Linked DNA regions of Homo sapiens. The protein of the gene in region 1 interacts with the protein of each later gene in a pairwise test. Each region holds a gene or a part of one and is shown on either strand. Other genes may lie near its edges.

Region 1 (3,732 bases):
CTAAGAAAATGTTAAAAAAAAAATAGGAAACGTGAAAGAGCTTGGCGGTTAATGCTGTTCTTTGACACCAAGCTACCTGGCAATGAAGCTTCACTTCTCCACTTACAAGACAAGTGAGTTGGGCAAATGACTTACTATCTCGGACCTCAGATTTCTTATGTGTAAAATGGGCAATATCAGTAACTTCCTCATCTACCTGTTTTGAGAATTAGATAATTTAATATAAATAAATGCGCTGAGAAGAGTACCTGGCAGAGAGTAAGACCTCTGTTAGATATTCATATTGCCAAAACTGCTCTTTCTAGTGACGTTTAATAACCATGAAAAGCTGGAAATAAATAGAATACCCAATATTAAGGGAAGTATGAAGTAACTTATAGCAAATCTGTGTAATAGTTACGATCTATATCATTCAAGAAAGTAGAAAATGTCATTGCTTATAATTTATAACTTTGTATAACTTCATCTATGTTAAAATATGCATACAAAAAGACTAAAAGAAAATATGACAAAATGTTTAGTATACTTATTTTTATGTGGTACTAAAGATAATTTTTGTTTTCTCCTTTATATTTCTTTAGATTTTTGCAAACTTTCTATAATATTCATGTGCTGCTCCTAACATCAGAAAAAATAAATTTGATTTTTTTAATAGTGCCCTTTGTTGTTTGTTAACTTTGTATTTGCAGCTTGATGTCAGTCATGTATATTTCAATCAGAGTTGAATCAGCGACCTACTGGAATTTTATTACTCTAAATCTCTAAAATTGCCCCTGAAATTTTTCAAGAACTATCTCTACAGAAGAAAAGTTCTATAGTTTGGGAAAATATGTTTTGCTCAAACTTGCATTTCTATCTTTTTTCCTACATTTAGATTTAAGTACCTGAGATCCTCAGAGAAGCAAGGATGAAAATAACATAATCCAGGTAATAATGAAACCTATTACACTGGCTTTATTATCTATTACTTCACTGTTGCCTGAAACACACTATCTATTACTTTAAGGCTGCTTGAATTTCTTATCAGCTAATTCTCTAAGTGTTGAATGTTTTAATTCATTGGAAATAGACAGTGATGGATGATTATTGGCTACCTCTATGTTCTCAAAATTATTTTTGGTAACTGCTAGGCCATCATGCCTAAGTAAAGAAAAATTTCAGAGCATTTTAGCATTTGGTAAATATACCACAGTTTGGGGAGGTAGACTGTGGTATAAAGTAGTAAAAGTATGACTATTGCTACAATTAAAAGAACTACTAAATTCTATTTATACACAACTTTAGAACTTGGAAAATACTTCAAGCCAGACATGGTGGCTCATACCTATAATTCTACCACTTTGGGAGGCCTAAGCAGGAGGATGACTTGAAGACAGGTGTTCAAGATCAGCCTGGGGAATATGGCAAGACACCATCTCTATCAAAAAAAAAAAAATTAAAAATTAGCCAGGCATGGCGGCGCATGCCTCTAGTCCCAGCTACTCAGAAGGCTGAGGTGGTAAGACTCCTTCAACCTAAGAGATGGAGGCTGCAGTGAGCCAAGATCTCTAACACTGCCCTACAACCTAAGTGACAGGGCAAGATACTGTCTCAAACAAAAAGAAAATAGTTCCGAGATTATTCTCTATAATTTTTTCTTGTAACGAATTTTTTATGCATGGGCTCATTAACCAAAAAATACTCGGTAGGAATTTCCAGACAATAAACTATAGAACATCAAGTGGTTAAGACATTAAAAGAGGGAACATTTAGAAGTGAAAATATTTTTCAGATAATTGTTAATTCTGTTTTCATCAGTTCAAATCAGACTGTTTCCTATGGGGTTCAAATTGTTCAAAATTCAACTTAAATTTATTTCAGTTTATGCCATTGTAAGACAAATTATGGGTGCTTTCCAGTCCATGGCAACAATGCTGACATACTTCTCACCAATGGAGATCCAGTCACTGAGTGATTCTAAGGCAACAACAAAACAACTTTATTTTAGTTTCTCTGTTAGAGTCATGTCTATTCAGAAAGCCTCTCAAGAAATTATTTACATATGTTTTTCAACTCATATAGTAGCCTTGTTACTTGAAATCATAAAAATAAACACTACAAGAAAAGCTCAAGGTTATAACAAGTCTAAACTAAAAGAGAATCCAGCTAAAGCTGCAATTAGTTTTGTTTCCAGATAAAAGGCTGATTATTACAGATTCCAGTGTCACTCTGACCAATAAGATATGTGATCCCATATTAATACCAGCATTTAATGCAAAATAGTTTACCAGTGAGATCTTCATAAAAGAACAGGCATATTGCTACTCAAAGGCATTAGATTATTTGAGAACTATTTTAAAAAGCAATTGCTTTGTTTCTACATTTCTTAGTGAAAAAGTATCACTCACACCTACTCTACCAGTTATGGTTAATTTTATCACTAAAACTCTAGAGTTTCACCACTATTTTCTTCTTTTTTTTCAATGTGTAGAAAAATGCAACATGGATTACTCTTGTAGTCCAAACCTATTTCCTTTTACCTGTGACTACCTCTTAAAACCCTATTTACATTAAGAAAAAGAAGAATTCAAAATCTTCCTTTTTAACTCTCCATTTCTCCAAAAGACTTAGCTTTCATGGAAATCTTCAGTATTTAGTTACAACATTTGAATATGTAATCTCCTGTATATGGTATTGATCCATTTATGTTAACCATGACAATCTAAGTCAACTGTAAATTTCTTAAAATTCATATATTTTCATCTTTTTAAGCTTATTTCTTCATCAAAGACTTGCCATACTACTAAGTATGCAGCACACATCATTTTATAAATCAACATATACTCACTCTCATTCTCAATTCTCGATTTCCCCAAGCCTGCAGTGAGAGTGGCCACTAAAGGCCACAATGTCTTTTTATACTGCTGATGTTGGAAGACAGGATAAATATATCCCTAACTAACCTTTGGAGCTCACTGAGACCAGAAACTATGCCTTATTCATCTTGGTAGCAATTTAAAAGGTGTTATAGTACTTGGAACATGGTAGGTGCTCAATAAGTATACTGAATTATATTTAAGGCTTTTCCAATATATTAATAGCATAGAAAACAAAAGGACCCATATTATTTCTGAAAAGTCAAATTATTTGAGATTTTACTAAATTCTGAGAGTAGAATAAGGCTGCTCTTTGACTTTCTAGAAAGCCTGTTCCTCTGCTTCTAATATATAATCCAATTATAACTGATTAAGTAATTATAACTAAATAATCATAAAACAGATACCCAAAATAACAACTCTTCTTGCTGAGCAGACTAGAGTTTTGTCACTACTTATTAAAGTGTTTCAAGCAATTACTATTATGTTTGATTCTATCCTACTACCTGAGTTTTCAGATGACTTAAGCCCAGAAAACTTCTATGAAGAAAAGCAATTTCAGAGTAACCTCAAACCAAAGTTTAATATTGTTGGTGCAGAAATTACACAAAAACAAAGAACAGAATTAAAGAAGATTGCATTTTAACTAGATATTTTTTAAAAGCAGAAAGAAAAAATAAATACTATATGATGACTGCCATAGTGATATAGTCATAACTACTTTTTTATTTTTAATTTCTGTTGCAAGTTAAGAAGAGCTCGCCGATAATTTATATTAAAATATATTATGGTCTAAAAGCATAGCATTGCCAATAAAGGAATTAGAATTCTAAATATAGCAGTTTATATTTAACACGTACTAATTTTAAGCTGCCAG
Region 2 (3,732 bases), on another chromosome or scaffold:
TAACTTGGTCCATGGGATTTCCCCTAAAAAGGTAGCCAGGCAGGTAAAATTTGCTCTTGACTCTTGGCAGGAAACGTACAACTCTTTCTTTCTTCTTTTCTTTTCTTTTTCTCACTCTGTTACCCTGGCTAGAATGCAGTGGCACAATCATAGCTCACTGTAGCCTTGAATTCCTGCGCTCAAGTGATCTTCTGGCCTTAGAGTAGCTGGGACTACGGCTGCTGTACCACCATGAACAGCTAATTTTTTTTTTTTCTTTTAGAGATGGGGTGTTGCTATGTTGCCCAGGCTGGTCTCCAGCTCCTGGCTTTAAGCAATCCTCCCGCCTTGGCCTCCCAAACTGTTGGGATTGCAGGCATGAGCCACTTTGCCTGGCCAACAGAACACTTCTGCCGAGAGGAAGTGTGTGGTGGCCAGGAACTCAGATTCTGGAGCCAGAATGGTGCAGGCTCAAGGTCAACCCTGTGTGATCTCAGGCTTCCCTATGGAGCCTCTCCAGCCTCAGTCTCCCTTGTTTCAGTTTCCTCATCTACAAAACAATGTTAATAGTCAAATGGTGCCTATCCTATAAGGCTCTTGGGAGGATTCAGTGAGTTAATTTGAGTAATGCTTAGGATAGTGTCTATTACCACTGGCTGCTATTTATTATTTCTGTTATGAGTGATACTCTGTACTTGTACACTTTTATTTCTGTCTGTTTTAAATTAACAGCACAACAGACCATAACACTGCAGTATATTGAATTTATTTTATAATTAACATAGCATATTATAAACTAATATAGCTTAAATGTTTATGTAGGATTTCTGACATGAAATTGCATTAGATCATAGATGTTCAGAGTTGGTATATAACAGCCCCTGAGAATGTAGTAACTCAGCAGAGACCAGAAGGTCAGAGAAATGACCACTGAGTATTTTTGAAACTCTTTTGTTTTCTTCCAAATAGTGATTCTTAGGGCTCCTGAGAGGCAGATGGAACAATCATTAACATTCCACTTTATAAATCGGGAAGTTGAGACCAAGGAAAGTAGTTTGAATAAGCTCACAGTAGTTAATGAGGGGGCCAGTGCTGGACCAATTGGCCAGCACTGGTCATTGACTTATTCATCCATCATTCATTTATTCAGCCAGAATCTATTAGGTGCTTCATACATATTTGCTTAAAGTTTGTTGTGTTCATAGAGCTTTGCACACGGTAGGTACTCCATAAACATTTGTTGATGAAATAAGTGAGTTACTGAATGAATGATTGAATTAGAATGACACTGCAGTGTTAAAATGGGCTGGGTTGGGGAACATTTTAGTTTTTGTTTTTGTCTGTTTTCCAAAAATGTATGTGTTGTTCACATGAGTCTGGATAACCCTAGATTGAGATTGATGACATAAATAAATTTGTCTTCAAGGCTGCACTAAAGCTGGCTCACATGGCTAGGTATTTACAGAGCAGAAGTGGTGCAGTCCTCTCTGATTAGTTGCACGTACAGAAGACATATTCGTTATTGGACTGACCTTAGTTTCTCTTATAATTTGTTAGGGGAATTGAATCAGCCCATCTGAGAAGTTACAAGATTGTGTCTTGTCATCTTTAAAAGTTCAGCAATGTGATGTGGTACAGATGGTCTGAGGGGTTTGGAGAAGGTAGCCTAGATCCCTAGGGCCCAGAGAAGACAGGATGTGAACAGAGGAAGTACATGGATTGGTGAAGAAAAGAAATGGGATAACTCATGGGTCAAAGAAGAAATCATGATGGAAATCAGAAAATATTCAGAACCATACAATAATGAGAATATTATTTATCAAAATCTATTGGATGCAGCTAAAGCAGGACATAGGGGGAAATTTACAACCTTAGGTGCCTAGATTAGGAAAGAAGGAAGGCATTTGTTTATTTATTTGTTTATTTATTTATTTGAGATGGGGGTCTCACTGTGTCACCCAGGCTGCTGGAGTGCAGTAGCACGATCATAAATCACTGAAGTCTCGAACTTCTGGGCTGAAGTGATCCTCCCGCCTCAGCCTTCCAAGTAGGTGGGACACAGGCTAGCACCACCATACCAGGCTAATTTTTTTTTTGTAGACACAGGGTCTTGCTATGTTGAGGTCTCAAACTCCTGGGCTCAAGTAATCCTCCTCCCTCGGCTTCCCAAAGTGCTGGGATTACAGGCATGAGCCACTGCGCCCATCTAAGGCTGAATTTTAATGAGCTAAGAATTCATCTTAAGAAAGGGCTAAATAGACAGCAAAAGCAAACATTGAAGGTTGGGACTGAGCTGAGTGGGTAGCAGGGATGGGAGACAACAGATCTGAGGAGAGCAGGAGATTTTGAAAGGATTGCACTGCCTGAGGTTTAAGCCTTTAGAATCCAGCTCTCTCTGAGCTCCCTTTGAGCTCTGACATTCTGTGACTCTGATTTGGTGGCCTTCCCTTAGTGGCCTTACTGATTTCATTTGGATGGTGCTTGTGGTATATCCAACCAACATGTCTTCCCAAATGGCCTTTTAATTTCCTATAAAGAAGTAGTTGTCATTGATTGCAGGTTAGGGACAGAAAATGCTGTGGAATGAAACAAAATGCAAGTTAAAGAACTAAATTCCAAAAATACCCATTGCTACTATTGACTGAGTGAATTCCTACTGTGTGCCAGACACTGTACCCAGTCCATTCCCTGTATTGTTTTATTTAAGCCTCACAAGGGTATAGTGTGACTACACTGTTTCTTAACAATGAAGAAACTGCCCAAATCGCCCATCTGGGAAGCGGCCCAGCTAGAATTTGAATCCAGGCCTGTTTTCCTCCAGAGCTTGTGCTATTCTCTGTCTGTCATAAAATGTGGGGGCTTTGTGTGGTAAACTTGCTCAGTTGGGCATAGCAGTTGTTAGGAAACCTGAGGCTGGTAACACCAGCTGTAATACCAGCTGTCCGTCTGACTCATGCAACTGTTAAAGTTGATAGGGCTGAGGTGTCAGACTGAGCTCTGAATTGCCTGATTCCTATAACAATATTAACTTAAACATTTTTTAAATTGGGAAATGCACCATGCATACAGAAGAGTGTGTATATTTCATATGTATAGTGTAAACTGTTCCCATCACCCAGGTTAAAAAACAGGATGTTGCCAGTACCTGGGGCCTTCTTTAACTGCAACTGCTAGAGGTAAACACTGGCTTGACTTTTGTGTAAATCATCTCTTTGCCTTTCTTTAATGTTTTAGCATCTTTTAAAATAAATCCCCAAATAATGTATTGTTCTATTTTGAAAAACTGAGTAGCAAGCCAAAAATAGCTGTGTAAAGAAAGGTCACTTAAATTAGGCTGGGTGCAGTGGCTCAAGCCTTTAATCCCAGTACTTTGGGAGGCTGAGGCAGGTGGATCACAAGGTCAGGAGATCGAGACCATCCTGGCCAACATGGAGAAACCCCGTCTCTACTAAAAATACAAAAAATTAGCCAAGAATAGTGGCATGTGCCTGTAGTCCCAGCTACTCGGGAGGCTGAGGCAGGAGAATCGCTTGAACCCGGGAGGCAGATGTTGCAGTGAGCCGAGATCGCACTGCTTGAACCCGGGAGGCAGAGGTTGCAGTGAGCCAAGATCGCACCACTGCACTCTAGCCTGGGTCACAGAGCAAGACTCTGTCTCAAAAAAAAAAAAAAAAAAAAGAAAGGTTACTATTGCCTTTTCTTAGATGAAGGTTCCCAAGGCAGGGAAAGCTAAGTGGAGTCTCAGGGACTTGG

Evidence for each region. Proteins that work in one complex are often made in the same cells at the same time.
Region 2: the proteins of PRR16 (region 1) and NOD2 interact in binary tests that used the Homo sapiens proteins (3 or more experiments, as listed by UniProt).

Annotation. Positions count from the first base shown.
Region 1 is NC_000005.10:120,467,200-120,470,931, reverse strand, and holds part of PRR16 (protein Largen), read right to left. Parts: intron 1-3,732. UniProt on the Homo sapiens protein: Regulator of cell size that promotes cell size increase independently of mTOR and Hippo signaling pathways. Acts by stimulating the translation of specific mRNAs, including those encoding proteins affecting mitochondrial functions.
Region 2 is NC_000016.10:50,700,047-50,703,778, forward strand, and holds part of NOD2 (nucleotide-binding oligomerization domain-containing protein 2), read left to right. Parts: exon of another isoform or gene 1-31; intron 32-3,732. UniProt on the Homo sapiens protein: Pattern recognition receptor (PRR) that detects bacterial peptidoglycan fragments and other danger signals and plays an important role in gastrointestinal immunity.